Homo sapiens: one gene and its partners. The protein of the gene in region 1 purifies or fractionates together with the protein of each later gene. This does not show direct contact. Each region holds a gene or a part of one and is shown on either strand. Other genes may lie near its edges. The genes, in order: MAP3K6, LIMD1 and PCDHA4.

Region 1 (10,436 bases):
CGCTGTGCCAAGATGGCCCTCCAGATGCGGCATACCATCCCTCCCCTGGGGGTAATGGACTCAGTGTGGCTCAGCCAGAAGGTGGCCCTGGACTCTATCTTGCACACACTGTCTGCCCAGTGCCCCCTCTGTCCCTAGGGGACCCAGGTGCCCCTTTGGTTTCCAGGAAGGAACCTAGGCAGGCCTGCAGTTGGCCAGGATGAGGCCATATGCATGGTTCACACTTGGGGGGCCCAGGATGTACCTGATGCGGGTGTAGATGAGGTCATCTCGAGTGGCATAGGTGAGCAGAGTGTGGAGGGTGAAGCTATGGTTCAACAGCTGGATGTGGTCAAAGACCCGCAGAAAGAGGGAAATAAGAAATTACAGAAAGATGTGTCGAGACCCAGGTACTAGCTCTGCTCTGTTGCCAAAATAATGAGGCAGATCACACCCTTCTGGGCCTCAGTTTTCTCATCCATACAATGGGACGAGAATACTAAGTGTTCTTCTGGTAGTGAGATTCTCTGCATCAGAGGGCACAGTAGAAGAGCAGGAAGATGGACAGAGATGGAGGCTTTGGCTGGTGAGGTCAGGGATAGCCAAGCACTCCCCGACTCACCATTTGGATGGTGCCTGAATCCACATTCAGTTCCTGTAGCCACTGCACCAGGCCCTGGTCCGTTGAAAGAGCAGCTGTCAAGAAGCAGTCAGGTGATGAGCCCAAGAGTGCCTCCTGCTAGAAGCTGCCTCGAACCCACCAATAGTGTTCTCCAGCCAAGGCCCACTCAGGTGATGAGCCCAAGTCAGGTGATGAGCCCAAGGGTGCCTTGTGCTAGAAGCTGCCTCGAACCCACCAATAATGTTCTCCCGCCAAGGCCCGCTCAGGTGATGAGCCCAAGTCAGGTGATGAGCCCAAGGGTGCCTTGTGCTAGAAGCTGCCTTGAACCCACCAATAATGTTCTCCAGCCAAGGCCCACTCACTTGGAGGCTCTGGGGCCAGGACATAGGTCCGGGCTTCCTCATTCAGCCGCTGTAGAGCCCGCTGCACCAGGGCCTGGTACTCCCGTTCCTTCCCCGCCAGGATTTCGCGCAGCCTGTGGGGCGCAGAAGAGTAGAATGGAGCGGTGAGTGGTGAGTGGGTTGAAGCCCGGCAGAGGCTATGAGCGATTCCAAGGGGCTTTACCGATCAGTCTCTGCCCTCAAGAGGCTCAGCTGCACCATCAGAGGAGCGGGGCCCTGCTCGGGCTCCACCGGAAGCGGGCTCTGCTGGCCTGGGCTCTGCTGGGAGTCCCCTTCATTACTCAGCTCCTCTGACCTCGGTGAGACCGCCTCCTTCTCCACCTCTGCAGCCCAGTGCGGTGAACTCAGGCAAGGCTACAACGCCCGTTTGGGAACCCCAGACCCCAAAGTGCGGGGGTAGGGTGCCCGGCTCTGGGCAGGCCCCAGGCGGTGCCGGTATGGGAGATGTCCATTTAGTCACGCCCCCACCGGCGCCTGCCTGCCCCTGTCCCGCCTGGCCCCCACCGGCCCCATTCGATGTTCACCGCGCCCAGCAAGCACCACACCCTCGCTGGCAGGAGGCCCGTGGCATTCCCCTCCTACCCGGTCCTAGCACACCCAGGGCTGCCCGCACAGCACGGCTGAGCAGTGAGTCCAGAACGAACATCCAGTGTGGACGGATCTGGCGCTTGCGGAGGATCTGCTTCACCTGCAGGGGGAGGGAGGCGCCGCTGAGACAGCTGAGCCTCAACTAGAGGCAGGGCTTGAGTTGGAAAGGCCTAGAAAGTCTTCGGCGGGAGGCGAGTGGGGTGGGCGGGCTTGAGGTCCAGGGAAGGCCTGGGAAGCTAGGACTGGGCAGACGGTTTTTTGCTGCAGGCCTGATCTTCACAGAGGAGACAGGGAATCTGGGAACGTCAAGTCCTGGCACCTCACCAGGCACGGGGAACTCACTACCTGTTGTTGGGCAGCTCTAACTACCAGAAGGCGCCCTCACCGCATCCGGGAAGGCAAACAGCGGTCTGTGCAGAAGCGCAGGCCCAAGGCCCTGGGCCCTCAGCCGTCCTTGCAGCGCCCGCAGCTCCTGGGCGAGCTGCCGGCGGTTGGGAGTGTGGATGTGTGCCCCGAGGCAGCGCAGCAGCTCTTCCACATGGTTTCTGCCCAGACGGGCCCCCTGAGAAGGAAGAGAGGGGTTGTCAGCGAGTGCTCCAGCCAAAAGAGACGCTGCCGCGGAGGTAGGGGGCGGGGACATCAACAGGTGTCCTGACCCTTTGCGACCACCAGGGGGCGCTAGAGTGGGCCGCCCACCTGCTCTTGCTTCTGCTCCTGGTGCAGATTCTCCGCCAGCGCTGGCAGCTCCTGCTCCAATACTGCGGCCAGCATGGCCCGACGCTTGCTCTCCTGGTGCAGCAGGCTCAGCCCCGAACTCTCCTCCGGAGACGCAGGCTCCTCGGCCGCAGGCTCCTCGGGCACCCTGGGCACAAGGGCGAGCTGCTGATTGAGGACGGGCAGCAACCGGCCAGTCACCTCTGTTGCCGGGTTTGAATCCTGGCTCTCCTACTTTTATGCCTACCTCACAGGCATGAACATAGATAAACCCCGCACTGAGAGGACACAACAAGTCCAAGTTAGAGTTGCCAGAACAGGGCATGGGGAGGCACCAAATGCCACATTCACAAGTGGTCAAGGTGCCCAGGTCCCCAGGGAGGGCTTTTGTAGGAGAGGAGAAAAAGGCAAAACCAGGCAAAAGGAACCCATCCCAGGAGCCTTGGTCTCACCGGAGCTGGCTGGTGCCCCCATAACTGAGGCAGCGCTTCGGGGGGCTGGGTGGGTGCTGAGAGGGTGCCTGAGGGCACGGGAATGTCTGAGACTGGGTGGTTGAGTTGGCTGAAGGAGTGGGACTGGCAGAAGGGGCATCTGAGGGAGGGACAGAGCCATCAGCTGGGCTCTCCTCCACCCTCACAGCTCCACAACTCCTCTGCCCTCCACTGTGCCCATCCCGCCACCCGCAAGCACCTGAGGGCCGTGGAGCATGTCGTGGGGAGCTGGGGCTGCGGCTCCTTTTCCCAGGCTGCAGGAAGGGGTCCCCCAGCAGTGTCTGGGCGCTGGCTCGGAGGCGGGGGTCTGGCTCAAAAGTTCGGAGGAGAAAGGCTTGGGCCTCGGCCGACAGAGAGCTGGGCATTGGCGGATGGACCTTGTACATACCCACCTGTGGGGGGAGGGTGAACAAGGGTGACATTCAGAGGTGTCCAAGGCCCAGGCTGGCCCTATGCCACTTCCATGGGCCAGGCCCAAAGAGGTCTCACCTGAAACATGGCAGCCTGTGGGCTCCCGAGCTCGTGGAAGGGGGGGCGACCTGTGGCCATCTCAATGACAGTGCAGCCCAGTGACCAGATGTCAGCTGCTTTCCCATACCCGCGTGGGCCCTGGTCAATGATTTCTGGGGCCATATACTGCAGAGTTCCTAGGACAGAAACAGGAGCACCAATGCCCATCTAGGCTTCATCATGGGGTTGGAGCAGGGAGGGGAATGCCGTCATCCTCAGGCCGACTGCACCCATACTGAACCTATCATCCAAAATATACCTCAACACCTATCCTGGTCATCAAACATCTATCCTGAGTTCCATCACCACCCTGGGCTCCATCGCCTGCCAAGGCTTCCGTCATTCATCCTGGGCTCCACCACATTCACAGACTCCATCACCCACAGTAGTGCTCCAGCACACATCCTGGATTGCCTCGTCCCCCTGAACTCCATCACCTGCTTTTTCCTCCAACTCCCACCTTGGCCTGCATCAACACTCCTCAAGTGCTAAAGTCAATTTCATCACTTCTCCAAGCTCCAGTTCCAGATGCCACCACCTCAGCCCTGGCCCAATCACTCACCCTGGGTTTCATTCCCCATTAGGACTCTAACTCCATGCCTAGGAGAAACCCCCTTCCCTGGAAAGTTCCAAGAGATCTTCTGCCCCAGGTCAGCATCCCCACTCACCACCCCCACACCTTGTTACCTGTGAAGGTCTCAGTGCAAGGTGTGATGCCTGCCAGCCGCTTGGAGGTGCCGAAGTCAGAAATCTTGAGCAGCCCACTGAAGGTGTTGATCAGCACATTGTCCCCCTGATTGACAGCCATTAGTGGACACTGGTCTGGGCCCCTGCCAGCAGAAGTAGACCCTCTTTCTGGGATCCCATCTCCTGGAGATCCCAGCCTGGTCCTGCCTCTGTCAACACTCTCCCCTTGCCATCCCACTTATATGCCCCTCTGGGAGCTGACAATTGGTTTGGCTTCAGAGCTGAACCTTTCCCCTCCTTCTCTAAGGAGCCTCCCTGATGAATTCCCTACCCTTTGCAACAGGTCTGCTCACTTAATCTAAACTGCCAGCCTGCGTCTGGGACCATGTTTCCTTCCCCGCCACCCTCAGCAGATGAGGGCGGGCCAGCCCCAGGGCTTACTTTTATGTCCCTGTGCACGATGTGGTTGTCGTGCAAGTAGCCAAGTCCCTGCAGGATCTGGCGGGTGTAGAAACTGATGGTGCTCTCGTTGTCCTTCAGGGGTCCCCACACCGACCGCAGCAAGGAGGACAGGCTGCCTGGGTGGGGACAGTCCAAGTTCATTCTTCCCACCCACTGGCTCCAGCCCACATCTCTCTGCTCAAGGCCCAGACACACCCATGTTGTAGCCCAACTCCATCACCCAGCGCCACTCCTCAGCTAATTCTAGGCTACACCACCCACACGCACTAGGGTGCATTTCCCCCTAGGGCTCTCTACCCCTGCCTGCCTCGGTCCCATGCTTCACACCTCGGTTTCATTCCCATCCCACACAGGGCAGGTACCTCCAGGCACTTCCTCCATGAAGATCTTAAGGTAGCCGCCCTGGCTAGCTGAGCCCAGATAGCGCACTATGTTCTTGTGGCGCAGGCGTCTGTGAAGAGCGATCTCTTCATGCAGGGGCTGAGAGAACCTGAGGGGAGGTAAGGGAGAGAGGAAAGGGACCGAGGTGGGCAGAGAAGCCCCGCCCATCCCACGCCAGCCTGGCCCCGCCCCAAGGACCCGCCCCGCCCACAAGCCCTCTCCGACCTTCCCCACCCTTACTACCCTGCCCACAGGACCCTCCAGACCTCAATCCCGCCCGCACGGTCCTGGCTGTTCCGCCCACGGGCCCAGTCCACAGGGCTCGAACTCTCAGGTCCTACGAGCCCGCCCACTAGGCCCCGCCCACAGGAGCCGCTCCGCTCGTGGCCCGGCTCACTCGGCCCTCGCGAGCCCTCAGCCCCACCCGCGCTGCCACGCACCGCACCTGCTGTCCCGCTCCGGGATCTCCTTGATGGCGATGCGCACCCTCGTGTGGCGATCGCGGCCCGCGTACACCACCCCATACGTGCCCTTGCCCAGCACCAGCCGCTCGCCCGTCTCCGTGTACTCATAATCAAACTGCCGGGCGCGGGGTGAGATGGGAGTTCAGCAGGGCCCGCGGCCCCTCGCCCTCCGCGAGCTCCCAGTCCCGCGTCCTCACCTCCAACATCTCCCCCGCGCCCTCCGCCTCCTCCGCGGGCGCCGTGGAATCCGGGTTCGTCACCCAGGCCTGGATCAGGCCGCAGAACCTGAAGGTGGGGGAGGTCAGACCCGCGGGAGGGGCATCTTGGTCCCCACCTAAGCCGGAGCATCCAACGGACGTCGTCCCTTTCTTTCCCCCACTCCCCCCCGGGCATCCTGGCCCTCAGAGTACCCCGACCATGAAAGGCTGCGCACCACTGGCAGTGCCCTACGCTGGGGAAGCACAGCTGGACGTCCTGAGCCGGGGGGAGTGCATAGAGGAAGCAGCAGCGCTCGTCGCGCTTTGAGGCGCTGGGAAGGGATGAAGAACCCAGTAAGCGTCAGGCTGGGTGGCAGCGACCCTCACCTCCCGTCTTTCCAGTCACCCCAGGTCCCGCCTATCACCTGACTCCGCATATGGAGGCGACTGGGAAGGTCCAGCTGGAGGGAATGTCCTGCAAGAAGAAATGGGGTGTGATGGGGAGTGCTGGTGACAGGAGAGGGGTCTGAGGATGGGAGAAAGGCTCCACAGAAAAGGTCCTAGCAAAGGTGAGTGAGGGGCCTCAGCAGCGACTTCACCTGGGTCTCAGGCTCCAGCAGGCTCAGGGTCACTGTGCTTACTGGGTCAGTACCCCGAACCTCGAGCTTTGCAGGCAGCAGCACCTTGTTCATCTCCAGGACCAGCACCTGCAGGCAGTTGGGGAGTGGGGTCAGTCAGAAGGGGCTTACCCCTTTCCCGGGTCCACCACCCCTACAGGCCTCACCAAGCACTGGTCGCCCTGGGCACAGGCTGTCTTGAATGGTTGGCAGGACTGTAGCAAGAAGTGGAGCCAGAAGTGGGCACGGCGTGGTGGCCCTCCAGGGGGCTCTGGCGTGGGCCTGAAGTGCTGGTAGAGCAGGAAGGTCTCCATCACGGACACCAGGTACCTGCATGCAAAGCCACATCCTCAGTTCAGCCCAGGCACCAACCAGCACTGCCAGGGAGAGGAAACTGGCCTGGATATAGCTAGAACGTTGGCATGGGGTGCCACGGGCACTGGTCTAAAAGCAGCCAGGTCATTGGCTCAGGGTTCAGTCTAGCATGCCAATGGACATAGGTGCAGGAGCTGACAGCCCAGGTCAGGCCAAGAATGCAGAGGGGGCCACCTACCATATGGGGGCATTGAGCTTATACAGCTGCTCTGCAGCCAGCACCACCTGGGTGGGGTCATTGGCGAGGATCTGGGCTCCCAGGTAGAAACCCACATCCCAGTAATACTGCATCTTCTCCACGCAGCCTTTGCGGGCCAGCAGGCAGCCCAGCTTCATGCCTGGGGGAGAGAGGCATGGGCTCCAGTGAGTGTGGGTGCAGGGGTGAGTGAGGCCCACCATTTCTGTGGGCCCGAGTGTGGACATGAACATAGATATGAGTATGGCATTGAGTATGGCAAGATCTCGGGTGGGAACAGGAGCTCAGGCACAGGTATATGTGGAATTCAGGATGTAATGGACACGCAGATGTGAGTTTGGGAACATTTGTGGGTTTGAGGGCTCCTGAGGGCCCAGAACAGGTATGAGGACCCAGGTGTGGGTATGGGCAGGACAGTCCAAAATGGATGAGCTCATCCTAGCTCTTGCCCAGTGTGCTCTCTCCCTGCCCTCTTCCCAGGCCCCTCGGAACCCCTGTGGGTGACGAGACAAGAGCCAGGATCTGTGCTCACCTATTAGCCGGAGCTCTTTGGAATCCTCAAAGTGCTGCCCGGCAGCAATGAGGAGCACAGCTGCATTGATGCCTGAGTGAAGGCTGGGCTCTACGTCAAAAGCCTTGCGATACCTGGGGTGGGGGTAGGGGGCACAGGGCTGGACTGATGCCCACAGCACCACCCCTCATCTCACAGCTTAGCCCACCGGCCACTCACTGTGCTCTTTACCAGTGATAGGCCTGCTCCCGGTGCCCAGCATCCTGGAAACCCGAGCTGAAGAACATGTCCTTGTAGATACGGCCACACATGCAGTACAGATCGGGCGCCACAGAGCCCTCAAGCTGTACCAGCGGCAGCAGCACAGACAGGGCCTTCGCCCGGTCCCCAGGCCTGTTCCTCCTAGGGAAAAGATGGGCTCAGGCCCTCCCTGATGGCCCTGGCCTACTCTGTCCAGGGACCTCTAGACACTGAACCAGCAGGGACCCTTCCAGGGGCCTGACAATAATGACCTCAAAATGATAATGACCCTGGCCAGCACTGACCTCTCTAGTGACCTCAGATGGAAGTGATTCCTAGATGCGATGACTCTTAGGAGCAGTGATCTTGGACAGCGGTGACCATACCACAGGCAGCACCACCTCCCCCACCCCGACCCAGGCAGCAGTAACTCAGAACAACAGGGACCTATTGACATCAGTGACCCCGGTCAGCAAATTCCCCGAACAGCAGTGATCCCAGACAGCAATGGCTTTGCACGCAGAGACCTAGGTTTCGGAAACCTTTATGTGGCTATGACCTAACCCTTGCTCTGCCACTCACCGGTTGAGGGCAAAAGTGTAGTGGAAGCAGACATTATGCTGCTCGGCCACATCACAGGTGGGCAAGGCCTGCAGCGTCTCCACCAGCTCAATGATGGCCGAGTAGTCCTGCATCAGGGAACGGCAAGCACTGGCATCATGGGCCTCCAGGCCCCAAGGAACCTTGAGCCAGGGTCCTGTCCCACTCCTGACATCCCACCCAGCCACCATCTTCTGCACGCCTCCCTCAGGCCCAGCGGACACACCTCACAGGGAGAACCTACTGTATGCCCCATGCTGGGCGTTCCCAACCCCACAACTGCCCCAGGAGGCAGCGACATGCTCATCCTCTCTAACAAATAAGGAGGCCAACACTCAGAGACATTGGATAATTTGCCCAAAGCCACCAGTGAGCAAGTGGCCCAGCCAGGAACTGAACTTGGGTTTGTCTGACCTCAAATGCCAGCTGCCCTACTGCCTCTCTGAACACCACGCACCTGCACATCGCGGTAGGAGAGCAGCAAGTTCATGATGATGTCGGGGCTCAGCAGCTCCACGCTGTCCAGTCTCCGCTGCAGGCGAGCCAGCTCCTGCCGCAGCTGTGGCCCACTGAACCGCTCCCGCGCCTGCCGGATGTCCCGCCGAATGGTCTCCCGGAAATAGCCACTGATGCCCAGGGTAGGGGAGGCAGGGAGAGAGAATGGTGGGGCCTGTACCTCAGCCCCAGCCCACCATACCCTCACCAGCCCCCTCCTGGAGCACCCTCCCTGGGGGCCTTCATTACCAAGAGTCTGTGGGTGTGGCCTCCAGCAGGCGGGCAAGCCGGCCCACCAGGGGAGTGAGCAGGGCCTCGGTCCCCACTCCAGCCTGTACCAGCCCATCAGCCAGGCCCCGCAGAAGGCCTGCATCACCACACAGCACCCGACCAGTGGCCGTCACCACATAGGGGATCAGTGTGTAGCTGCCAACGCAATCCTGGTGGGAGGGAGGCAGGAATCAGTGAGGTCAGAGGTCAGCACAGGGCTAGACAAGGGGAGTGAGAGCATCAAAGGTCAGCATCAGTGGGAATTGGAATCGCAGGAAAGGGGCACCCGTCATGAGAGGAGGCAACAGGAAACAGAGGAATACTTGGGATGTCAGTGGGGGGTTAGGTGACTGAGGAGGCCAGGGGGATTAGTGGAGGTCAGAGGTCATAGCGGAAGTCAAAGGGCACTTTTGAGTGAGAGGTGGATTCTGCTCACCGAGTTCTTCTGGAAAACATCCTCCTGCAGGAGGCAGACAGTCAGATACTGGTGTTCTGTGTAGGCCTTACCCCAGCCCTGTGCCTGCCTCCACCAGCCCCAGGCCACCTACCCGCAGGGCCTGCAGGTCAGGGAGGTCGGCCTGGGAGCAGAGGAGCACATTGTTGGTCATGCTGAAGCTCTCACGCACACCAAGGTGGTAGAACAGGGAGGGCTGTACCAGCGAGCTGCTCACCTCCAGCACCACCACATCTGCAGGCACAGAGGGGGTGGCGCTGATCCCTGAAGCCCAGCTTGATGGGGAAGGAGCCGGGGTCCATCCTGGCTTGACCTGCCTTGCTGTGGGACTCCAGTAGGGTCTGGTTCTGCTTTGGGCTTCAGTCGGCCCTTTTTAGGGTTCCCCTGGCACTTTCACAGAACTGATCTCTGTAGTGTTGCAGGAGAGGAGTTGGGCTCACTGGGTTGGGACCCTCAGGCCACGGTTCAGAGCCTGTGAGCACCTGGCATGGGGGAAGGGAGGCTGTGGACCAGTTGAGTCTGTTACGGGCCATTTAGGAGGTGGGAGTTGCGCAAACATAGAAGTCCCCTCCCTTTGGTCTTCAGCACAGGCTCTTGAAAGGGGCTACCATCAGTGTGCATAGACAACGCTGTGCCTAAATGTATGTATGTGTATATCTGTGACATGTATAGCTTACTATGTCTGACTGTATCTGTGTGTGTGACAGCGTCTGCTAGGGCCTGCATGAGTCAACATGTATGCGATTTGTGTCTGTCGATAATTGTATCTTTGTGTCCGAGTGGTCGGGTCAGCCTTCATTTTAGGCTACGATTTCATGGACATCCAGGAAGCACAGCTACTGGACTCTAGCATAAGCAAGTAAGTATGGGGGCCGAGCATCCGGGCTGGCTGGAGGGAGGAGTGACTCGCGGGGGAATAGCCTCCTTCTGGCCCCGCCCCTGAGCCATCCTTTCCCGCCCACTTCCCCGCCCCTTCCCCGCCCATTCTTTCTGGGCCGCTGAGGCCACTTAACCTAAGCTCCCTCACCCAGTATCCAGTCCCGTCGGGCCCCTTCGCTTCTCTTTTTGCCTCTCCTAGCCCGATCCTTGGAAATAGTATGCTAGGACTCCTGAACTCCAGCCTCCCGGCCCCTTTCCCTAAGTCCAAGCTCCTCTCCCAGTAATTGTCCTCAAGAGATCCGC
Region 2 (10,436 bases), on another chromosome or scaffold:
AAGAATCACAAAATGGGAGATTATTCTAGATTATCTGGATGGGCGTAATCCCAAGTGTCCTTACAAGGAGGCAGGGAGGGTCAGAGAGGAGGTGTGACAATAGAAGCAGCCAGAATGATGCAGCCACAAGCCAAGGAAAATGGGCAGCCTCTAGAAGCGGAAAAGGGGCAAGGAATGGGCAGCACCCTATAGCACCTCTGGAAGCAATTCGCTTCTGCCGACAACCTTTGGCTCGTGTCCAGGATGACAGAATGATATATTTGTGTTGTTTTAAGCCACTGAGGTTGTGGTAATTTGTTAAGAGTGGCCATAGGAAACCAATACAGACTTCAACAGAGCAGCAGTGAGCTTCTCCTCACAGCCTCCTGTGGCTTTTTGACTATGTAGCTTTGATGAAGAAGTATACTGATGGACAATTTACTGCCTCCCATCAACCAGAGTAGTAGAGTGGTCAAGACAGCACCCTCTGGATGAGATGGCCTGGGATGGAGTACTTACTGTTTATTTCACCCTTTTGTGTCTCAGTTGTCTTGTCTATCAAATGAGGGATGATAAAGAACATACAGTCCTTGGAATAACATCTGCTATGTGATGAGCACACGGGAAATGCCAGCTATTACAGCTGCTACTGCTTCATCACAGCACTTAGAACCAGACCAGATACCCCACTGCCCAGTCCCACATGGCCCAATGCCCAAGGCTGACTCTTAGGACTATGCCATCTCCTCCCAATCCCTGGTGCCAGGATGCCTTGCTGGTAGCTGGAAAGTGGCCATGGCGGGAATATTTACATCATAGGTATCAGCAAACACTCCATATCAAGGCTTTTTAATTTTTTGCCCCAGAGGGCTGGTTTGCCAGCACACCACAACTCCAGACCGCCTTTTACCCTGATTGCATCTTCACTCCTTATACCATCAAGGTCTTAAGCAAATAGCAGCCCATGTTGGCAAAATCAGACTAGCCATTCTCTCATCACTTAAAAAGAAAAAAAAAACTTTTATTCTGGTGTAAGGTGCTATGACTATGAGTATCCTCACTCCCAGCTTTCCCGTGTCCTTGGCACGTCAGACCTGGTAGCCACAAGGACTACACTGGAGTCTAGAACAAACTCTTTCCCCACCCCAAGGATTCTAACCACACACTTGGCCCCAACACTCTACAAGTCCTGTCTTCCTGCATGTGGCTGTCTCAAACCTGAAGGATCACTCGCCTTGAGGATTCTTTGGTCATAACCTCAGAAGAGAAAAAACAGTAACATTCACAAGAGAGACAAAGTGACCTTACAAGTCACTGCATCAGGACCTTACAAGTCTCAATCTTAAAGGTCCAGTAAAAGAAACTGCTGATTCTTGGGATATGATTCTCCAAGGCCTCTCACATTTTTATACATCTGGTAAGAATAGACACCAATTGCCAGGTTCCAGACTTATATTTTCAAGGATGTTTATCTAGTGAACAGTCTTGGATGACAGAGATAGTGTCTGTCTCTGGAGCAAAAGTCAGGCAGGCTTACTGCCCATTATCAAATACCAGGGTCCCCTAAGCATGGGGGTTCCTCTTGTAATGCAGCCCACTGCGTGTGCAGGTCTCACCTGGCCCTCTTCTTGGGGCCTGGGGCTCAGGGAACCAGTGTAAATGCTGATAATCTGGCCACTGCTATTGCTATAATAAACTGTCCTTTGTCTCTGACCTATGAGTCTCATAACTTCTGCCAGGATCCATGAACCCATGTGGTGTGCTCACTTTATTAGCCTGCAAGTAGGGTAAAATCTCATACCCTTCACAGGTTTGCTACCTATGTGGTACTTTTAAGAATCCAGAGCTGTAAAAGAAGACAAAGTCCAGGTAGCAAAAAACAGTTTGCTGACTCCACACACAGAAAAGACCCAGGAAATATAATGTTCAAGGAGCACTTTAATAGTCAACAAATTGATGCAGTTTTGTCACAATACTTTGCATAATTTTATAGTAACAGTAAAATTCTGAATCACTTTATAGTAAAAGAAAAGACACAGAGGAAAATAATTTCCCTGTACAATGAAATTTTCATACACTATATGAAGATTTCCCACATCTGTCAAGTTTTGGCTCAGAATAAAAGATAGCTAATATATTTCACTCTTTTTTCTGTTACTTTTTTTTTTTTTTTTGAGACAGTGTTTCGCTCTGTTGCCCAGGTCGGAGTGCAATGGCACCATCTCGGCTCACTGCAACCTCTGCCTCCCAGGTTCAAGCGATTCTCCTGCCTCAACCTCTCAGGTAGCTGGGATTACAGGCGTGCGCCACCAAACCCAGCTAATTTTGTATTTTTAGTAGAGACAGTGTTTCACCATGTTGGTCAGGCTGGTCTCTAACTCCTGACCTTAAGTGATCCACCCGCCTCAGCCTCTCAAAGTGCTGGGATTACAGGCGTGAGCCACGGCGCCTGGGATTACAGGCATGAGCCACTGTGCCTGGCCTTTTCTATTACCTTTAAAAGTTACTTCACATAGTAAAGAAATTAGGACTGATTCTTGGCATAAAGGAGGGTACAAAAAAAAATTGTGCCAGGTACAGTGGCTAATGGCCATAATCCCAACACTTTGGGAGGCGGAAGTGGGCAGATCACTTGAGCCCAGGAGTTCCAGACCATCCTGGGCAACATGGTGAAACTCGTCTCTATTAAAAATACAAAAATTAGCCAGGCGTAGCCAGTCATACACGCCTGTGGTCCCGGCTACTCGGGAGGCTGAGGTGGGAGGATCACTTGAGCCCAGTAGGTGGAGGCTGCAGTGAGCTGAGATCGCGCCACTGCACTCCAGCCTGGGCAACAGAGTGAGGCCCTGTCTCAAAAAAAAAAAGAAAAGAAAAGAAAATTTGGTTTCCTGGCAGATAGAGTTTTAACAAGCGCATCAAGCAGTAATAATTTGTGGTCTTGTGCTCAATTCTCACACATGATCTTTGCAAGCGTCCCAGCAGCCATCACAGCTCTACTTTCACATGCATGGGACACAGCACAGAGCAGCAGCCTTGAAAGGACTGCAAAGAGGTGTGAATTCCAAACATTCTCTTAAGTCCTAACATTTCTGTTCTTCATTTTGTGTGACAGAAGCCCATGGAAACAAGGCGATGACGGCGCTTGAGGGTGACCAGACCTCCTCAATCATTCCATCAGCCACCCAGGACTCAACAGCAGAACCTCAGAGGACTCAGCTGAAAGAGGTTTTCACTCGAGCACTAACCACAGAGAAATGGGAAGTGCCATCCTGCTGTCATACGCAGCCGATGGCTGGGTAGGACTAAATGCCCTTCTGTGGTGAGATGAACCAAGACGGCAGATGGGGGAATAACATCAGTGAGAGAGAGATTACGAATGGATCCTTGTATTGCAGATCAAACTGGGTTGTCTCTTCTCAAACCACCCAGGCAGTTTCTGAATGTCCCAAGATAGGGGTAGGAGAAAAGAAAAAAAAGACAAAACAGGAGACGGTGGGTAAGAAAACCTAAAAGGCACAATGAGGCAAAGGCCTAAGATGGAGGCTGGCTTTGGGATCTGAAATCCGGCCACAATCCTCCTTGTTTTACCTCAAGTCCAAGAATTGTCAAAAAGAAAACCCAGAAGGGCTATTCATTCTAAATTTTAAAATCTTTTCTTCCTGGCCTACCAAGTCCTTGTGTTTTCTTTCTAGGCGCCCATAAATACAACCCCATTACAGTTCTATTTGGCTAATAATTTACAGAACATTTAAAATACCGGGTAGGTGAACATCTCTTCATGGCTTTTGTGTAAGGGCCTGAAGCGAAGAGAAAAACAACTGATTGGAGATTCCTATCTGGCGCCTTCTCCAGGGAAACTGACAACCAGAGAAATCTGTTGCTAGGATTTCTAGGACATCTGGAAATTCCCTTTTTGTTCTTTCTCAACAATATAAAATGGTATATTCGCAAACCTATCTGAATCACCTCAATCTAGGCCACTTTGAAAATTTCATTTAAAAATGTAATCACAGATTTTTAAACTAATTACCCAATTTGCAAACAAATCCCAGCTACTTCTGGTCTTGAACATGGAGCAAAGGTGTGTCAGTAAGGCCAACATTCTTAGGTTGACAGAGACAGGTTAACACATTGGCTGGCTTCATTTACCCCCCTGCCACGCCCCACACTGAGCTGGATGATTTGATGGGAAGAGAGGGTCCCCACCTCAGGGTTCACTTCCCCAGCCCCAGCGTTCATGGGTTTTCAGGAGGCTCAGCCTGTGAAAAAGAACCAATGATGATGCACACCCTGGCTGAAGTGACATCTGGCCAAAGGATTCCAACAGAATGAATTCCATCAACATGGAAAAGATAATCCATGGCACCAATTCTGTGCTGCTTACAGGCAATGGTTACCAAATGAGTCAAAACATGGCCTAGAAGTGGAGCCGGGCCCAATGAAAAGCCTGAGTTCACACGTGCTAGGGGCTCCACTGACCGGCCTCTGCAGCCCAGCACCCAGTCCTCTTGCTCTGGGTGCAAGGTGAGGAGGCAGAGTGCACACACCGGCTCCTGTGTCCCCGGCCTGGCTGGCAATGGTAAAATGGGCTGCCTTTCTTTTGCAGCTTCTTCTAATCGAAATACCAAAGGGTACTGACCTCTGGCCTCAGGGATGTGACTTGCAGTGCAAATTTTACCTCTTCAGTGCAGAGAGTGGTCTTGAAATCTTGCCAGTGTGTGGCCCTCCCTCAGCTCCTGCCACCCTGGGGAGCCAGGATGCTGAAATGCATAAGGCAAAAGCACTGAATCGGATCTATTCCCCACTGACCTTTAGTTACGATCACTCTGCCCTGACCAGCTGGAGTTGGGCCTGTGTGAAGCCAGTGATTTCCAACACACTGAAGAAGGTATCTGAGTCCAGTGTGAAAGCCAAATTCCTCCTGAATCTGTGATTTGGTGAAGCTCTGTGAGGTATTTTTTGTGTGTGGAAGACTGAAAGTGAAGGGAAACAACTAAAAAAATTAAACAGACAAAAGCAGTGTACCTTATCCTGGTTTCTTCAAACATAATGCCTGTGCCAAGAATTGGGCAGGAGAGAAACCAACGAAATGAATATAATAACTTATCCTGAGGCGCTCCCTCCCACGCTGGCTTAGAGATCTCGCACACACAAAAACTCTCCTTGTTTATAAGAAGCTGTCTCTCAGTATGCGGGCAGCTCTTCCCAAAAGCCCGTCATTAAATAAGCTAAAAACAGGTGCAAGCGATGTACCTGCATGGGTTCCTGAGACTTGCCTTGCAGAAGCGGCCTTCCAAGTCACCAACTCTTGAGAACTCCAGAGAAAAACAGCGCAAACACGTGGGCAAAAAAAAAAATCCTGGTGCCTGCACCAAGTTCTTCTCCCAAAGTATGTTTTACTCACATAGGGCAAATTTCTGTCGCGGACTCAGCTGCCTTTAGGAGAGTAAGGATTTGAAGGGGTACAGAGAATGCTGTCAGTGTCTAAGGAGGAAACCCTGCCTCACCTATTTCAAATCTTGACTCTGGTTTTCTAAGCAAATTTATCTTAGGATACAAAGCACACATTAGAGCTTCCTTCTTGCCTTAATGCAATTAAATTTGCAGCCATTCTGCAGAAGAACTGAAGCTCTCAGGTGAAAAGAAGCCTTAAATCATGCCATGATATATGTCGGGGGAGGGAACATTTGGGTATAGGTATTTTCCTGAAGGAAGAGAAAGGGTTGAATGTATTGGCAGCTGAGCTGTCCCTTCAAGGGGATATTGTGAAACAAGCTCAATAAAAACCTCTCCCTCTGAAGCATGAAATGTTCCCAGAGGGGACAGGAGGATTCCTTTGGTGCTATGATGCAACCTCAGGTCATGTGCTCGCACATGCTGGAGCATTTTCCTGAGTAACCTGAGGAAAATGTGGCAACAGAGAAAAGCACTTGGAAAATACACGCAGGAGGCAGGTAGTGTTCACCTCCCTGGTTAAAGGAAAGGCACCCCCCACATGCTCACAGGAACTCTCCCTCCTGCCCCTCCTCTTCCCCTACCCCACTTCCACCCCAGGGGCCACCGGAAGCAGCAGCAGCAACCCCGGCTCCTCATCCCCTGCCGTGATGTCTGCAAGTGGCTCTGGCTAGAAGTGGTGCTGGTGAAGGGCTGTAGATGAGGGTCTCTTCTCCAGCCTCTTCACGTGGCAGGAGTGACAGAACAGGTGGTCCTCCAGCGGATAACAGCGGTGGCCATCTTCATCATTGAGCTCCAGACCACAGTCCTGTGGGGAGGCAGACATGTCCAGGGGAAGCAAAACAAAACAGACTGCAAGACTGACCTGAAGGCCACAGTCCCCAAAATCAGCAGAGGGTGCTGTGTGTTTCTGTATAGGCAGGAAATGCCAGTGCAGAAACACAGCTCCTGCCCCGTGGAGGCCTGTCCAACACAGGAGACACTGCCACAAGGCACTTGCTGTGAACCACTTAAAATGTGCTGTCAGTGTAAATGCAGATTCCGAAGACTTAGGACAAAAAGAGGATGTAAAAATATCTCATGGGAAAAAGGAATGAGATCATGTCCTTTGCAGGGACATGGATGAAGCTGGAAGCCATCATTCTCAGCAAACTAACAAAGGAACAGAAAACTAAACACCACATGTTCTCACTCATAAGTGGGAGTTGAACAATGAGAACACATGGACACAGGGAGGGGAACAACACACACCAGGGCCTGTTGGGAGGTGGGGGTGAGGGGAGGGAACTTAGAGGATGGGACAATAGGTGCAGCAAACCACCCTGGCACACGTACAACATATATCTATGTAATAAATCTTCACACGTATCCCTTTTTTTTTTTTAGAAGAAATAAAATAAATTGTGGAGTTACAAAAAAAATCTCATGGGTAACTTTTTTATATTGATTACATGTTCAAAAGATAACATTTGGATTTTTTTTTCTTTTTTGAGACAGTCTCCCTCTGTTTTCTAGGCTGGAGTGCAGTGGTGCGATCTCAGCTCACTGCAACATCCACCTCCCCCGTTCAAGGAATTCTCCTGTCTCAGCCTCCCAAGTAGCTGGGATTATGCACGCGCCAACACATCTGGCTAATTTTTGTATTTTTAGTAGAGACAGGGTTTCACCATGTTGGCCAGGCTGGTCTTGAACTCCTGACCTCAAGTGATCTGCCCTCCCAAAGTGCTGGGATTACAGGCATGAGCCACCACGCCCAGCAGGATTTTTTACTTTTTTAAGACAGGGTCTTGCTGTGTCACCCAGAGTAGAGTGCAGTGACACGATCCTAGCTTCCTAAGTAGCTGAGACTATAGGCACAGCATGCCTGGCTAATTTTTGTATTTTTAGTAGAGACAGGGTCTCACTGTGTTGTCCATGCTGTTCTCAAACTCCTGGGCTCATGTGATCCCCCTGCCTCGGCCTTCCAAAGTGCTAAGATTACAGGCATGGGCCCATGCCTGGCTGGATATTTTGAACCGAATAAAATAATTAATCTCACCGGTTTCTTTTAACGTTTTAATTGTGACTACCAGAAAACTTAAAATGATACATGACTTTAATTTGTGGCTCTCATAATTCTTTAACGTTTTAATTGTGACTACCAGAAAACTTAAAATGATACATGACTTTAATTTGTGGCTCTCATAGTTCTTTCTTTTTTTGAGACGGAGTCTTGCTCTGTTGCCCAGGCTGGAGTGCAGTAGCATGATCTCAGGTCACTGCAACCTCCACTTCCCAGGTTCAAGCAATTCTCCTGTCTCAGCTTCCCGAGTAGCTGGGACTACAGGCGTGTGCCACCACGCCCACTAATCTTTGTATTTTTAGTAGAGATGGGTTTTTGCCATGTTGGCCAGGCTGGTCTCGAACTCCTGACCTCAAGTAATCTGCCGGCCTTGGCCTCCCAAAGTGCTGAGATTACAGGCGTGAGCTATCGCGCCCGGCCCCTTATATTTCTTTTGGATAGCACTGGTCTAGAAAATGTGGAGAGGCCTGTTGAGCAAATGTCCTCACCTTTTTCTCCTGCAGTGACCTGGGGCACCTGGGGTCCCAGCAGCAATGATTCCCACCCATTTCTTCAGTGTTGGCAGTGGGACAAGTCTATATGAGGGACACCCCCATTCTCTACCCACAGGGTCACCAAATGAATCTAATCTCCTTCCATGGGTGAATTCACTTAATTGTGGCTGAAATTCCATGGTCACCCTTCACAAGGGTTGGTGAGGGGCAACCTCTAGCTTTCCTGACAGTCATCAGGTACTAGTGCTCCTTCATCTTGGGTTGGGACAAAGGGCAGGAAGGGGCAGGCGGACCCCACCCGCCTTCACACCACCAGCTGACATGCCTGTTTCCAAGAGGGGCTTCATGATTTCCAGGGCTCAGCTGAGAAAGGAGCTTCAGGCAGATAGAACAGCCTGCAAGCTGGAGGGGAGGGAGTCCCTTCCCCAAATCGCACACCTGCCTGACAATGTGGCCCGCAGATAGGACCTGAAACCCATGCTCTCCACGACCCTCCTAGCTCTGCAGCTTCAGGGAGAGCAGCTCCAACAGTTGCAGGACTTGATAGTTCTGAATATGCAGAAGAAAGACCTTTATACCTTGAGCATTTCCATCTTCTCCTACCTCCCCCAAGAACCAGCCTTCATTCCATTTCCTACAGAAGCTCTAGAGGGCTGACCCTTGCCAGAATCTTGTTGACTGCCTCTTGCCCCAGTCAACGCAGGATGCTTTTCTCTTGGATGTCTACAATGGGCTTTGGGGGCTGGGTGGGGAGGGGTCTACCTCGCAGTGGTAACACTCCACGTGGTAGTCTCTGTCCATGGACACGACACGGATGGTCTCATCTGAGCCCTGGGACCAGAGAAAAGCAAGAACACATAGGAGAGGCCTGTTAGGGGGGCTGTCGGGCTTGATGTACCGTGGGGTGGGGAGGGAAGAGGGTTTTGGGGGTAACAAGTAGGTGGCCTTGGGAGGAGAAGGTAAATCAGGAGTACTTACTGGAAGAAGAATACATTTAAGCTGATGAGAGGGGAAGTAGGAGGGATAGGAGTCCTTCCTTCTAGAATGTCAGAGTTAACACTGAAAGAAAGACCTACATGGACACTTATTTTAAAAAATGAAGAAAAGACAAGCCTTTCTCCTCATCTGCTAATCTAAGAATTAGTATCAAGTAAGGGAGTTTGACCTGGTTATGGGGACAAATCAGCACAAGAAGGGTACTGGGTTGGGGAAGCCAGTCAACAAGGAAGGGTGAAGACACGACTTATCTCAAAGGTGAAGTGGGGTTTTTTTTGGTTTTTTTTTTTTGGAGACAAGGTCTTGCTGTCACCTGCTGGAATGCAGTAGCACCATCATAGCTCGCTGCAGCCTCAAACTCTTGGGCTCAAGCAGCTAGGACTACAGGCACATGCCACCACACTTGGCCAATTTTTAACAATTTTTTGTAGAGATGAGGTCTTGCTATGTTGCCCAGGCTGTTCTTAAACTCCAGGCCTCAAGCAATTTTCCTGCCTGGGCCTCCTAAAAGGGGTGGGATTACAGGCGTGAGCCACTGCACCAGGCCAGAGTTGAGATTTTTAAAAGGATACCTTAAAAGCTGTAAGGACAGGACATGGATCTTGTAAATGAGCCCAGGGAGATATTCATGTCTTAGAAGCCCCTGGGAGCATGTCTGGAAGGGCATCTTACCTCAGGTGGAAGGATGGGAAGCCCACAGGCTGCACACTTGGGGGCCAGCACCCTGTGGGGAGAAACAAAGCAGCAATAAATGTTGCTTCTGGGAGCAAATTCCAGAGTCAGACTTGCACTTGGAATCCACATGGAGCCTTCCTCCATGCCGCCTCCTGCCCCTTGCTCTCCTCCCTCATAGAATGACTGGTACCTGGCTCACTTTGTGGAATATGCCTTAGTATTTGCTCCCCAGCTGCAATGAGGACACTGGCTGCCTCTCACTCTTCTGGGGACAGCACTAACTGATTTGTTTACACCTCTCATGGTGCCTAGCACAGGCCCAGGCAAACCAAGAGTGGTAGGAACCAGCACTGCATAGGGGCCTTGTGAAGTTAGGTAACGCTGAAGCCACAGGGCTTGGTGGATTCCTCCCGAGGCCTAGCTACAAATATGATTATTAGTTTTTCTGTGCTCTGTTGTTTTTTTTTTTTCACTAAACATGATTCTTTAACCCATTCCTGTCAACACTGGCATCGACCAACCTCCCAAGGTCCCTGCTGTACCCCTCAAAACCATTAAGCCTTTGCTGGACTGTGATCTAAGGGCGGCTGGCAAACACAGTTTTGTCGGTTTCCACCACTCACTCTGCTGAGATCAGCTTGGCCTACACGAATGGGTCCTGTCTGCTCCCATCCCTTCTTACTTGTGGTAATCTCGGACACAGTAGATCTTGTTCTCTGAGTCCACGGTGAAGGGCACCCCATCCAAACACTCATTACAGATGACACAGCGGAAAC
Region 3 (11,086 bases), on another chromosome or scaffold:
TGTGGAAGACAGTGTGGCGATTCCTCAAGGATCTGGAACTAGAAATACCATTTGACCCATTACTGGGTATATATCTAAAGGATTATAAATCATGCTACTATAAAGACACATGCACATGTATGTTTATTGCGACACTATTCACAATAGCAAAGACTTGGAACCAACCCAAATGTCCATCAATGATAGACCGGATTAAGAAAATGTGACACATATACACCATGGAAGACTATGCAGCCGTAAAAAAGGGTGAGTTCATGTCCTTTGTAGAGACATGGATGAAGCTGGAAACCGTCATTCTGAGCAAACTATCACAAGCACAGAAAACCAAACACTGCATGTTCTCACTCATAGGTGGGAATTGAACAACGAGAGCACTTGGACACAGGGTGGGGAACATCACACACTGGGGCCTGTTGAGGTGTGGGGGACTGGGGGAGGGATAGCATTAGGAGAAATACCTAATGTAAATGATGAGTTGATGGGTGCAGCAAACGAACATGGCACACATGTATACCTATGTAACAAACCTGCACGTTGTGCACATGTATCCTAGAACTTAAAGTATAATAAAAATAATAAGAAGAAATAAAAATAAATCTTGACCCCTACCTCACAACAATGATAAAAATATGTATATTCCAAATGGATTGTAGATGTAATGTAAACAATGAAATAAAAGATACCACAGAAAATTATCTTTGTGAAATAGGATCAGAAGCAAAAATTGATAAATTGAGTTTAATCAAAATTATGACTTTCTATTCACCAAAAGACAAAAAAGAATTAAAAACTAGCCATGAGGTTGAAAACTACTAAAAAAAGGAGTTATGTTCAGAATACAAGATTTGTTTAAGTAATAAGAAAAACAAGATAAGGAAATAAATAAAGTTCTATGGAAGCAAAAAGAAGAGAAAAAAGAAAAGAAAAACAACAGACTAGAGAAATAGGAGATTTGAGCAGCTATTGCACAAAATAAGGTATAAAAATTGCCAAAATAAAATAGAAAGGTACTCAACTTCATTTAAATATAAAATAATTTCAAAATGAGATTACAAAAGTCACCCAGTAAAATGGCTAACATGAAAATAACCTGACAAATGTAGAGATGATGTGGCCCAGCAGAAAGCCTTATGCACTACTAGGAATGTAAACAGGTAAAAACATCTTGGAAAATTGGTTGGTGTTAGCTACAAAAGACAAAGATACACACATATTCTGTGACCCACAAACACAACTCTTAGGCAAAAACCTGAGAGAAATCTGTGTACATGGGCATCAAAGAAATGTACAATATATTTATGATGGCATTATTTGAAATAGACATTGAGGCACAATGCAAATTCCTGAACAGTAGAATAAATAAGGTATAGTATATTTATGAAATAGTACTAGAAACAGAAATAAATAAACTACAACTACATATAACAACATGGATAATTTCATAAACAATGAGTGATAAATACAAATAACACACAAATGCACAGACAATACATGTTGTGCAAGTCCAATTAGATAACGTTCCCAAAACAGGCCCCGAACAAACAGTTATAAAAGGCAAATGTGCGGTTACACTGGAGGAAAAATAAGGGAAGTGATTTGGCAGGTGCATGCGAGGGGCTTCAGCGATGGAGGCAACGGAGCTTTTCACTTTCATACAATTTATGGAGCTTTATTATTTCAGCCTGTGCACATTTGTTTATATGTAATAGGTTAAATAATAGTAAAATGTTTTCTAAAATGTTGATTATTACCAAAAACAAAGAGGGTGAATATAGTGAAAATTTACTAGAAATTACAGTTCTGTTAATATGCATTGAATAATGCAGCATAAAATGAAGGAAGGCAATATATATTGCTCTGATGTCCTATAATTCCAAAAGACTTTAGTTAAAATGGATATGTAAAAAGAGGTAAAATTTTAACCCAGGGAAATTTGACTCTTAGAAATAAATTTACGAAGAAGTTGATAGAGAAAAACAATACGAAAATTAAACAAAAGGATGTTATACACTAACCTTTGCAAAGGATTCCTCAGTTGTCTGCAGCTGATCTTCTCTGTCCCTAGAGTCAGGTAAACTGGGGCTGAAGGCCATGAGGTCGGTCTTGGGTGGGCCCTCACCAGAGCACACCCTCGGCCTCCTCTGCTGCGAGTATGACCAGCTCCCCACCGCACTGGAGCACACCAGCGTGGGCTTGCCCGGAGCGCACGCGCCCTCGGTGGGCAGCGCAGAGCACCGCAGCGCGGTGTACAGCAGCAGCGTGAGCACCAAAAGGCTGGACACCGCGCAGATGGCAATGATCAGGTATACGTTGACATCCACCAGCGCAGCATCGGGACCCACAGCGCCCACCAACGCCCGTGAGGAGGCCTTTGGCGCCTGTCCACTCTCCACAAGTGACACCAGCACAGTGGCCGTGGCCGTCAGCGCGGGCTCGCCGTGGTCCTTCACCAGTACCAGTAGGCGGTGGCGCGGAGCGTCCGTTTCGTCCAGGGCACGCGTTGTGCTGATCTCGCCAGTGTACAGCCCCACGCGGAACGGGATGCGCGCGCCACCAGTCCCCGGCTGCAGCTCGTACGAAAGCCACGCGTTGTAGCCCGAGTCAGCATCCACCGCGCGCACCTTTGCCACCACGTGGCCCACACCCACCGACCATGGCACCAGCTCGCTCACTGCGCCACCAGTGCCACCCGCCCGAGGCGCTAGCAGTGCTGGCGCGTTGTCGTTTTCGTCCAGCACGAACACCTGCAGCGTCACGTTGCTGCCCAGAGGTGGCACGCCGGCATCGCGAGCGGTCACCTGAAACTGCAGCAGCTCTAGCTCCTCGTGGTCCAGCGGCTGCAGCGCGTACACCTTGCCGCTCTCCGCATGCACCGAAACGTAGCTCGACAGCGCGCGCTCCCCTACCCGCCGCTCTACCAGCGAGTAGGACACCAGCGCGTTCTCCTGCGCGTCCGCGTCCCACGCAGACACAGTGAAGATGTGGCAGCCCGGCGGGTTGTTCTCCTTCACGAACACTGTGTACTCGGGCTGCGCGAACGCCGGAGCGTTGTCGTTCACATCAGCCACCTCCACAGAAACACTGGCCGTGGCCCACAGCGAAGGCGAGCCCCCGTCTCGCGCGGTCACCACCAGCTCATAGGCTGACACGCTCTCGCGGTCCAGGGCACTGTCCAGCACCAACGAGTAGTAATTCTTGAAGGTGGACACCAGCTTGAAGGGGACGTGGGACGTCAAGGAGCAGGTGACCAGCCCATTGACACCCATGTCTTTGTCGGACACGCTGATCAGGGCGATGACTGTACCCAGTGGAGCGTCCTCTCTAATTGGAAGTGATAAAGACTTGAATTCCAAATCTGGGACATTATCGTTGTTGTCTTCTACTTCCACAATAACTCTACAATGGCCAGAAAGTGGGAGCTGTCCCTTATCAATGCCCTCTACAATAATTTCATAGGATTTGCTTTCTTCAAAGTCAATATATCCCTTTACAATAATTTGTCCAGTAATTGGATCTATGTGAAACTTGGATTTCACATTTGGCGAAATATCATTTGAGAATGAATAAACAATGTCCCCATTCAATCCTTCGTCTAAATCTGAGGCGTTAAGTTTAATTACCAATGTTCCATTAGGAACATTTTCTAGTAATCTCACCTTATAAATGGTTCTGTCAAAAGCTGGGGCATTGTCATTGGCATCCAGTACTGTGATGAGTAACTGAACGGTGCCAGTCAACTCGGGTTTGCCTCCATCAGTGGCTGTGAGCACTAAAAAAATCTCCGGAGCTTCTTCTCTGTCTAAAGATTTCCGTAATATAAGCCCAAGACCTTTTACCAGCTCGTCATCAGGTGGTTTTTCCAGAGAAAAGTATTCATTTGGGCTCAGTCTGTAAGTGAGCAGGGCGTTCTCCCCGATATCTGCATCCGAGGCGCCCTCTAGTGGAAACCGAGAGTCAAGCGGCCTGGATTCCGCGATGGACAGGTTCTTTTGTGTTGCTGGGAACACCGGCGGGTTATCGTTAATGTCCCTCACCTCCACGTCCACATGGAAAACCTGCAGCGGCCTGTCTACGATCACCTCCAGGTGGATGCTGCACTCCGCGCTCCGCCGGCACAGCTCCTCCCGGTCGATCCGAGAATTCACAAACAAAATGCCATTCTGCAGATTTACCTCCAGAAGGCCTCCGCGGCCCTTGGACGCCACCCGGAACAGGCGCGGCACCAGCTCCGCCAGCTCCAGTCCCAGGTCCTGCGCGATGCGGCCCACGAAGGTGCCGTGTTTGGCCTCCTCGGAGACCGAGTAGTGGAGCTGACCGTTCCCTGCCTCCCAGGCTGCGAGGAGAAGAAGTAAGAGCAGCAGACGCCGGGATTCCTGGCCGCTTCCCCAGGAAAACTCCATCTTTAGTGCACAGTATTTTGTTCTGATTAAATATCGTTTCTCAAAGTCAAGGGAAATCTTTTAATCGGTCAGTCAAGTGCAGCTGCATCCTCCATATTTCAGACTCCAAAGAGTGTATATGGTTCCTTCCAGTAAGAATAGAAGGAATTTTCCCTTCTTCCTCCTTCTCTCATGTATTTTGTGGTAAAGAGCGACATCATGTGGCTCCAAACCGTAAGTAGCAATTGTGGAAACCCCCACACACTCTACTGTAAACTACTTGGTTTTATTTATTATTTCAGTCGTTTCGGAGAATAGGAATACATTTTGTACTACTGTGGTACACATTGTACCACTGATTGATTGAGTGTGGTCCTTAGTTTCGCCATAGGGGCAACTTTTACTTCAGTAGAAATAATTTTTTCAACACAGGTTTTAAGTATTACAGAGACCTAACTATACACTTTGTAAACATGTAACTGTAAACTGTTGATTAGAAAAATTCATTACAGATTCCTGTGTTCCCAAGAATTCCAGGGTTTTTTTTTATTAATGATAACACCCTCTTCACCCTAGTATTTCTGGTGTTGTTGACTTGAGGGGACTGGTCTCTAGGGAACTTCTGGTGCCAAGAACAAGCTATTGACAGGGAAATTTGCAGATGTTTTATAAAAGGATCAAAGACCATCAGCATTTAATTAGATGTCTTCCTTGAGTCATGTCAGGGCTGAAAGTGCAAGGAAGCAGGAAGTTATAGCAAATAGCTTGCATGGAAAAGCATTCCAAATAATTTTATTCATTGGAACTCATTTGCTCCCATGAGAAACGCTGGTATTCTCATTTTGACTCTTACAGTTTATAAGTACTTGCTTGTTCTCCAGTATGTAATGTGCCTAAGCTTCTATTTTCTCCTATAGTGCTTATATATTTTAGCCAAACTGAATATTTCCTGCTTCCAATAGCTTTTTTTAATAAACAAGCATGTTCATTTTGTCCTGTCTATAAGTAATCCACATCATTTCTAAACTCTTCTAAAGCCAATTTACCCCATTTTATAACCACTTAAAACTTCCCTGACCCATGAAGAATGTCATGATCAAACCAATTGAACAGGTATTTTTTCTTCTTTTACAAACTGCAGCACCAGGGTGGAATCGCGTGGGCCATTTATTACATTAATTTATCTCTTATAAGCATTTGAGTATGTGTGTCCTTTTTTGGAATATATATTTTAAAGGGAATAGTTGTATCTTAATTGTTTAATAGCTCAGAGGGACTTACCTAATATTTCCTAAATATTTACCCTGCAGAAAATGTTTGCTTCCTTCCATTGCCTAATAAAATGCATTAATTTAAGGTGATCGCATATCTAGTTGGGAAAATGTGGTGTTTCAATAGCCTCTATGATTTTCTAAAGATACAAAAAAAGTCTCTAGACATTTCCCCAATTAAGATGTATTTCAAGTTCAATGTTGAAAACTTGGGTTTTAGCTTAATTTTTATTCTAATTCTTGGTAATCATGATCTTTGAATCATCCTGGGTATTAATGGGGAATGAAGACTTCCCAATAAATAAACCACAATACATTTTCTTACATAAAGAAATTTAATATATAAAGACATAATGGTAGCCATTTAAAAACTTTCCTTGCCTCCTATATCCATAAAGTTATTTTCATCCTGTTTGTCTAAACAAAAAATCAATCTAGTGAAAATAGCTTTACGCTCCCTCTCTATTGAAGAACTACACTCACACAAACACACACACACAAAAACCAAAACAACAACAAAAAACCCACCAAATTTCTGAATCAAACAGAAACCAGAGTACTTTCACTATGTGGGGACCCAAACTATATTTTTACAAAATGATCATTGACATCAAGCACATTGGAAAAAAGGAGGAAGAATTCCATTTTCACCCATTTCATTTGTAATATTTTCATTTACCAGGTATTTTAATGTACAGATGGGGAATGCAGCAGAATAGAAAACAATGTTTATTTGGTAGCTATTCAATATTTATTTGGCATAGCATCAGTACATCTGTGAAGTGAAAATTCCAAAGTCTTCAAAATGTCTTTGCCAAGAGTCTTGTTAGACAATAGTTTCAAGAGGCAAGCTGGATTTGAAGATTGAAGTTCCATATCTGGGAAGACAAGTACTTTGGCTGACTCTATTATATTCAAGAAGCTGATAACAGAACTAAATTTTTAAAATACTGACCTGAGATGGACACACTATGGCTACTACTTCATGGACAAGGGAGCAACAAAGGATAGTGCCAAAAAAGGAAATAAAGAAAATGGAAGTGAGGGGAAGGAGAGGAGTCAAGAAAAATATCTATTTTACGTGTTAGACCTCCCACACTGTCAATGAGTATTAACCAGGTTTCAGTTGGTTACTATTTCTCTCCAGTGGTAGGGAAACTTAAATGGGAGTCCAACTAATTGCTAGAGGAGATAACCAAATATGTAGGGGTAGTGATTAGAAAAAAGTCTACCTTCAATTTCATTTGGTTCTGGTTATTTGGAGTTTTCTACTTATTGCATGGCACACATTAATAGGCAGGATGCTATTCAGAGAAGTTAACCAGTAATAACATTATAACATTGGCTTATCAAACTTATTTCATATTAGCATCCTTAGTATGGTATGCAAAAGACACTAATGAATAAAAAGTTTTGCTAGTAGGGATAGTTTTAAAATTAGATACCATAATTATTTTCAAGATATTGTTCAGATTGAAAATTATTTTTAACAAGATTTAAAACATTCTTTTAAAATGAATATATAAATATACTATACAACTATTAAATTTTCACTTCATATTGATATTTTAGTTATTAGTAATAAATTTTAACATATAATACAGTAGTATTATTAAAGTAGTATTAAATAAAGTAGTGATAAACTAAAGATGAACAAAGATGCAATTCTAAATGCAATTGTTATTCTCGATTTTTTTCCCAACTGGGAAATCAAGAAACAATAAACGGTATTGCCAAATTAGAGCACAAGGCCTAAAATGAATCATATTCAAGTAAAAAATAAGGATTGAGACTCCAAACAAGTGAATAAGAGAATAAAAGAGGTTCCATAAAAGACAACAGGTGTAATGATCTAATTTTTGAAACTGAAGGTGGAAAAGCATAATCAATAGGGAGTTATAAGCATTAGGTGAACTCATAAAATGAGCAAGTAACATTTGTACTAACAGGTAGTAGGAAGTCCAAATGAAAAGTGGCAAAAGATATTGAAGAAGCATTGTATAGGGATAAGTATAAAACAAGTCGAAGTCAGATTCTCTAAATAATGCAATTCATCTAAGAAAAAATATTTGTCTTATACCCAGGCATTTAGCAATAAAATAATTCTACTACTGCACCTAATAACAAAACAAAATTACAAGTGTGGATATCATAACTTACTGCTGATTTGGTTCAAAAATTAGCAACAAAAATCTTACCGTTTTAACCACAAAACCACAAAACTGGAAAAGTCTAATTATGAATCACATAATTCATACTTAACTATTAATGTATTTCCAGAGGAGTGGAAACATTGAGGAATGAAAAACAAAGACATTTTGGAAAGAATAAATAAAAATTACTCACTTTGGCTGAGAGATCAACGTCCACATCCTGTTTCTCCTCTCTATCCCGGCTAATTGGACAAGGAGGAAGGCTAGGGCTAAAAGCCATGAGGTCGGTCTTGGGCAACCCCTCTCCAGAGCACACCCTCTGCTGCCTCTGCTGCGAGTATGACCAGCTCCCCACCGCGCTGGAGCACACCAGCGTGGGCTTGCCCGGCCCACAGTCGCCTTCGGTTGGCGGCGCGGAGCACCGCAGAGCAGTATATAGCAGCAGTGTGAGCACCAACAGACTGGACACCGCGCAGATGGCGACGATCAAGTACACGTTGACATCCACCAGTGCAGCTTCCGGGCCCGTGGCGCCAGCGGACGCCTGGGACGAGGCCTTGGGTGCCTGGCCACTCTCCACCAGCGACACCAGCACAGTGGCCGTGGCGGTCAATGAGGGTTCACCGTGGTCCTTCACCAGCACCAGTAGGCGATGGCGCGGGGCGTCCACCTCGTCCAGGGCACGGGTCGTGCTGATCTCTCCCGTGTACAGCCCCACGCGAAACGGGATGCGCGCACCGCCGGTCCCAGGCTGCAGCTCATACGAAAGCCACGCGTTGTAGCCTGAGTCTGCATCCACTGCGCGCACCTTCGCTACCACGTGGCCCGCACCCACTGACCGCGGCACCAGCTCGCTCACTGCGCCACCGATGCCACCCACCCGAGGCATCAGCAGTGCCGGCGCGTTGTCGTTCTCGTCCAGCACGAACACCTGCAGCGTCACGTTGCTGCCCAGAGGCGGCACGCCCGCATCGCGCGCACTCACCTGGAACTGCAGCAGCTCTAGCTCCTCGTGGTCCAGCGGCTGCAGCGCGTACACCTTGCCGCTCTCCGCGTGTACCGACACGTAGCTCGACAGCGCGCGCTCCCCCACCCGCCGTTCCACCAGCGAGTAGGACACCAGGGCGTTCTCCTGCGCGTCCGCGTCCCGCGCAGACACCGTGAAGATGTGGCAGCCCGGCGGGTTGTTCTCCTTCACGAACACCGTGTACTCGGACTGCGAGAATGCCGGCGCATTGTCGTTCACGTCGGCCACCTCCACGGACACGCTGGCCGTGGCCCACAGTGAAGGCGAGCCCCCGTCCCGAGCAGTCACCACCAGCTCATAGGCCGACACGCTCTCGCGGTCCAGAGGGCTGTCCAGCACCAATGAGTAGTAATTCTTGAAGGTGGACACCAGCTTGAAGGGGACGTGGGGCGTCAGCGAGCAGGTGACCTGTCCATTGACTCCTGAGTCGCGGTCGGACACGCTGATCAGAGCGATGACTGTGCTAAGTGGAGAGTCTTCTAATACAGGTAAAGATAGTGATTGAATAACTAACTCAGGTACATTATCATTGATGTCCACAATTTCGAGTAGAACTGTGCAGTGATCTGACATTGGGGGATTTCCTTTATCCGTGGCTTCTACCTGGATTTCATATGACTTACTTTCCTCGAAATCTATGTTACCCTTTACACTGATTTGTCCATTGACTGGATCTAAATGGAATTTTGACAGAATATCTGCTGACATGTCCGTATTGAAAGAATACGCGATATCCTTATTTACTCCTTCATCCAAATCGGTGGCGTTAACGGTCACCACTAGGGTACCATTTGGTGCATTTTCGAGTAATCTGACTTTATAGATCGTCCTCTCAAACGCTGGGGCGTTGTCGTTTACATCTAAAACAGTGATCTTTAGTTGAGTCGTGCCAGTGAGCTCTGGTTTCCCACCATCAATTGCTGTTATTAGTAAATAATGCTTAGGAGTGTCCTCTCGATTTAAATTTTTTTTCAACACGAGTCCAAGGGATTTAATTTCCTCATCATTTCTTTTAACGTCCAAGGTAAAATATTCAGTGGAATCAAGACTGTAAGTCAACAACGAATTTGTTCCGATATCTGCATCTGATGCGCCCTCTAGCGAAAACCGAGAGCCAGGCTGTCGGGATTCGGAAATAAACAGATTCTTTACAGCCATTGGAAAAACTGGCGCGTTGTCATTAATGTCCTTCACTTCCACCTCCACATGGAAAACCTGCAGCGGCCTGTCCACGATCACCTCCAGGTGGATGCTGCACTCCGCGCTCCGCCCGCACAGTTCCTCGCGGTCTATCCGAGAATTCACAAACAAAATGCCATTCTGCAGATTTACCTCCAGAAGGTCCCCGTGTCTTTTGGACGCCACCCGGAACAGGCGCGGCACCAGCTCCGCCAGCTCCAGCCCCAGGTCCTGCGCGATGCGGCCCACGAAGGTGCCATGCTTGGCCTCCTCAGAGACGGAGTAGTGGAGCTGGCCGCTCCCCACCTCCGAGGCTGCGAGGAGCAGAAGAGAAAGCAGCAGGCACTGGGCTCCAGGATCTTCTCGCCAGGAGAACAACATTGCAAGTATTTTCCAAATATTAGATTGCCTTTACATTGATCCAAAGTTTAAAAATAATTCGAGTTCCTTATCTTCATTTCTTAAACTCCTCGGTGTTAAATTTTAGAGAGGATGAAGCAAAGCAGTATCTGAATACGTAATGCACGCTGTTATTTCTTTTGTGGAGAAAGACCTTGTGGTGGACAGCGACATCATGTGGCTAAACGTGTAAGTATTAAATATGTAAACGTATCTTCTTTTCCTTGTATGTCGTTTGAACTTTCCCAAAATTTCTAGTTTCAATTGTAATATCCTTCGGTCACTCCTCAAAGTCCTTATATTTTATCTAAATATTTCCTTAGAACTTTTATACTAATTCACTATCAATTGTGCTAATTCATGACATACACTAAAATATTGTGATTCCTGTTTTAACAGTGGACATCTATTGGAAATATTTCCCATGTGACAGCCACTTTTCTATTTGTCTTAATGGAATTATCCCGTTAAATTATCACAATCCTCTGAAATAAGTTTTAATATTATTCGCTTTTTATAAACACATAGAGGTTAAGTAAAACGATATTATCTCTTGGTACGATGGGATTTCAATCTGATTCAAGACAACTTACCATTAACCTCTTTACCACCCAAGTTACATTTTATAGAAAAATCAGATCCTTTCAGATTTATGATCATCAAAACATTGAGATGTTG

What was found.
Region 2: the proteins of MAP3K6 (region 1) and LIMD1 purify together in Homo sapiens (affinity purification with mass spectrometry; 2 studies listed by BioGRID and IntAct, with this or other methods). This does not show direct contact.
Region 3: the proteins of MAP3K6 (region 1) and PCDHA4 purify together in Homo sapiens (affinity purification with mass spectrometry; 2 studies listed by BioGRID and IntAct, with this or other methods). This does not show direct contact.

The regions. Positions count from the first base shown.
Region 1 is NC_000001.11:27,355,425-27,365,860, forward strand, and holds part of MAP3K6 (mitogen-activated protein kinase kinase kinase 6), read right to left. Parts: intron 9,489-10,436; coding exon 9,349-9,488; intron 9,261-9,348; coding exon 9,237-9,260; intron 8,971-9,236; coding exon 8,780-8,970; intron 8,662-8,779; coding exon 8,493-8,661; intron 8,125-8,492; coding exon 8,018-8,124; intron 7,598-8,017; coding exon 7,427-7,597; intron 7,330-7,426; coding exon 7,217-7,329; intron 6,827-7,216; coding exon 6,667-6,826; intron 6,444-6,666; coding exon 6,281-6,443; intron 6,204-6,280; coding exon 6,096-6,203; intron 5,972-6,095; coding exon 5,922-5,971; intron 5,829-5,921; coding exon 5,733-5,828; intron 5,585-5,732; coding exon 5,497-5,584; intron 5,415-5,496; coding exon 5,281-5,414; intron 4,945-5,280; coding exon 4,817-4,944; intron 4,571-4,816; coding exon 4,434-4,570; intron 4,136-4,433; coding exon of another isoform or gene 4,099-4,135; coding exon 3,993-4,098; intron 3,443-3,992; coding exon 3,285-3,442; intron 3,188-3,284; coding exon 2,995-3,187; intron 2,896-2,994; and 18 more. UniProt on the Homo sapiens protein: Component of a protein kinase signal transduction cascade. Activates the JNK, but not ERK or p38 kinase pathways.
Region 2 is NC_000003.12:45,672,727-45,683,162, reverse strand, and holds part of LIMD1 (LIM domain-containing protein 1), read right to left. Parts: coding exon 10,343-10,436; intron 9,710-10,342; coding exon 9,658-9,709; intron 8,821-9,657; coding exon 8,752-8,820; intron 6,242-8,751; coding exon 6,104-6,241; 3' UTR 1-6,103. UniProt on the Homo sapiens protein: Adapter or scaffold protein which participates in the assembly of numerous protein complexes and is involved in several cellular processes such as cell fate determination, cytoskeletal organization, repression of gene transcription, cell-cell adhesion, cell differentiation, proliferation and migration.
Region 3 is NC_000005.10:140,800,502-140,811,587, reverse strand, and holds the start of PCDHA4 (protocadherin alpha-4 isoform 1 precursor), read right to left. Parts: upstream 4,521-11,086; 5' UTR 4,401-4,520; coding exon 2,016-4,400; coding exon of another isoform or gene 2,004-2,015; exon of another isoform or gene 1-2,003. Other genes in the region: PCDHA3 (protocadherin alpha-3 isoform 1 precursor), read right to left, coding at 7,997-10,390. UniProt on the Homo sapiens protein: Calcium-dependent cell-adhesion protein involved in cells self-recognition and non-self discrimination. Thereby, it is involved in the establishment and maintenance of specific neuronal connections in the brain.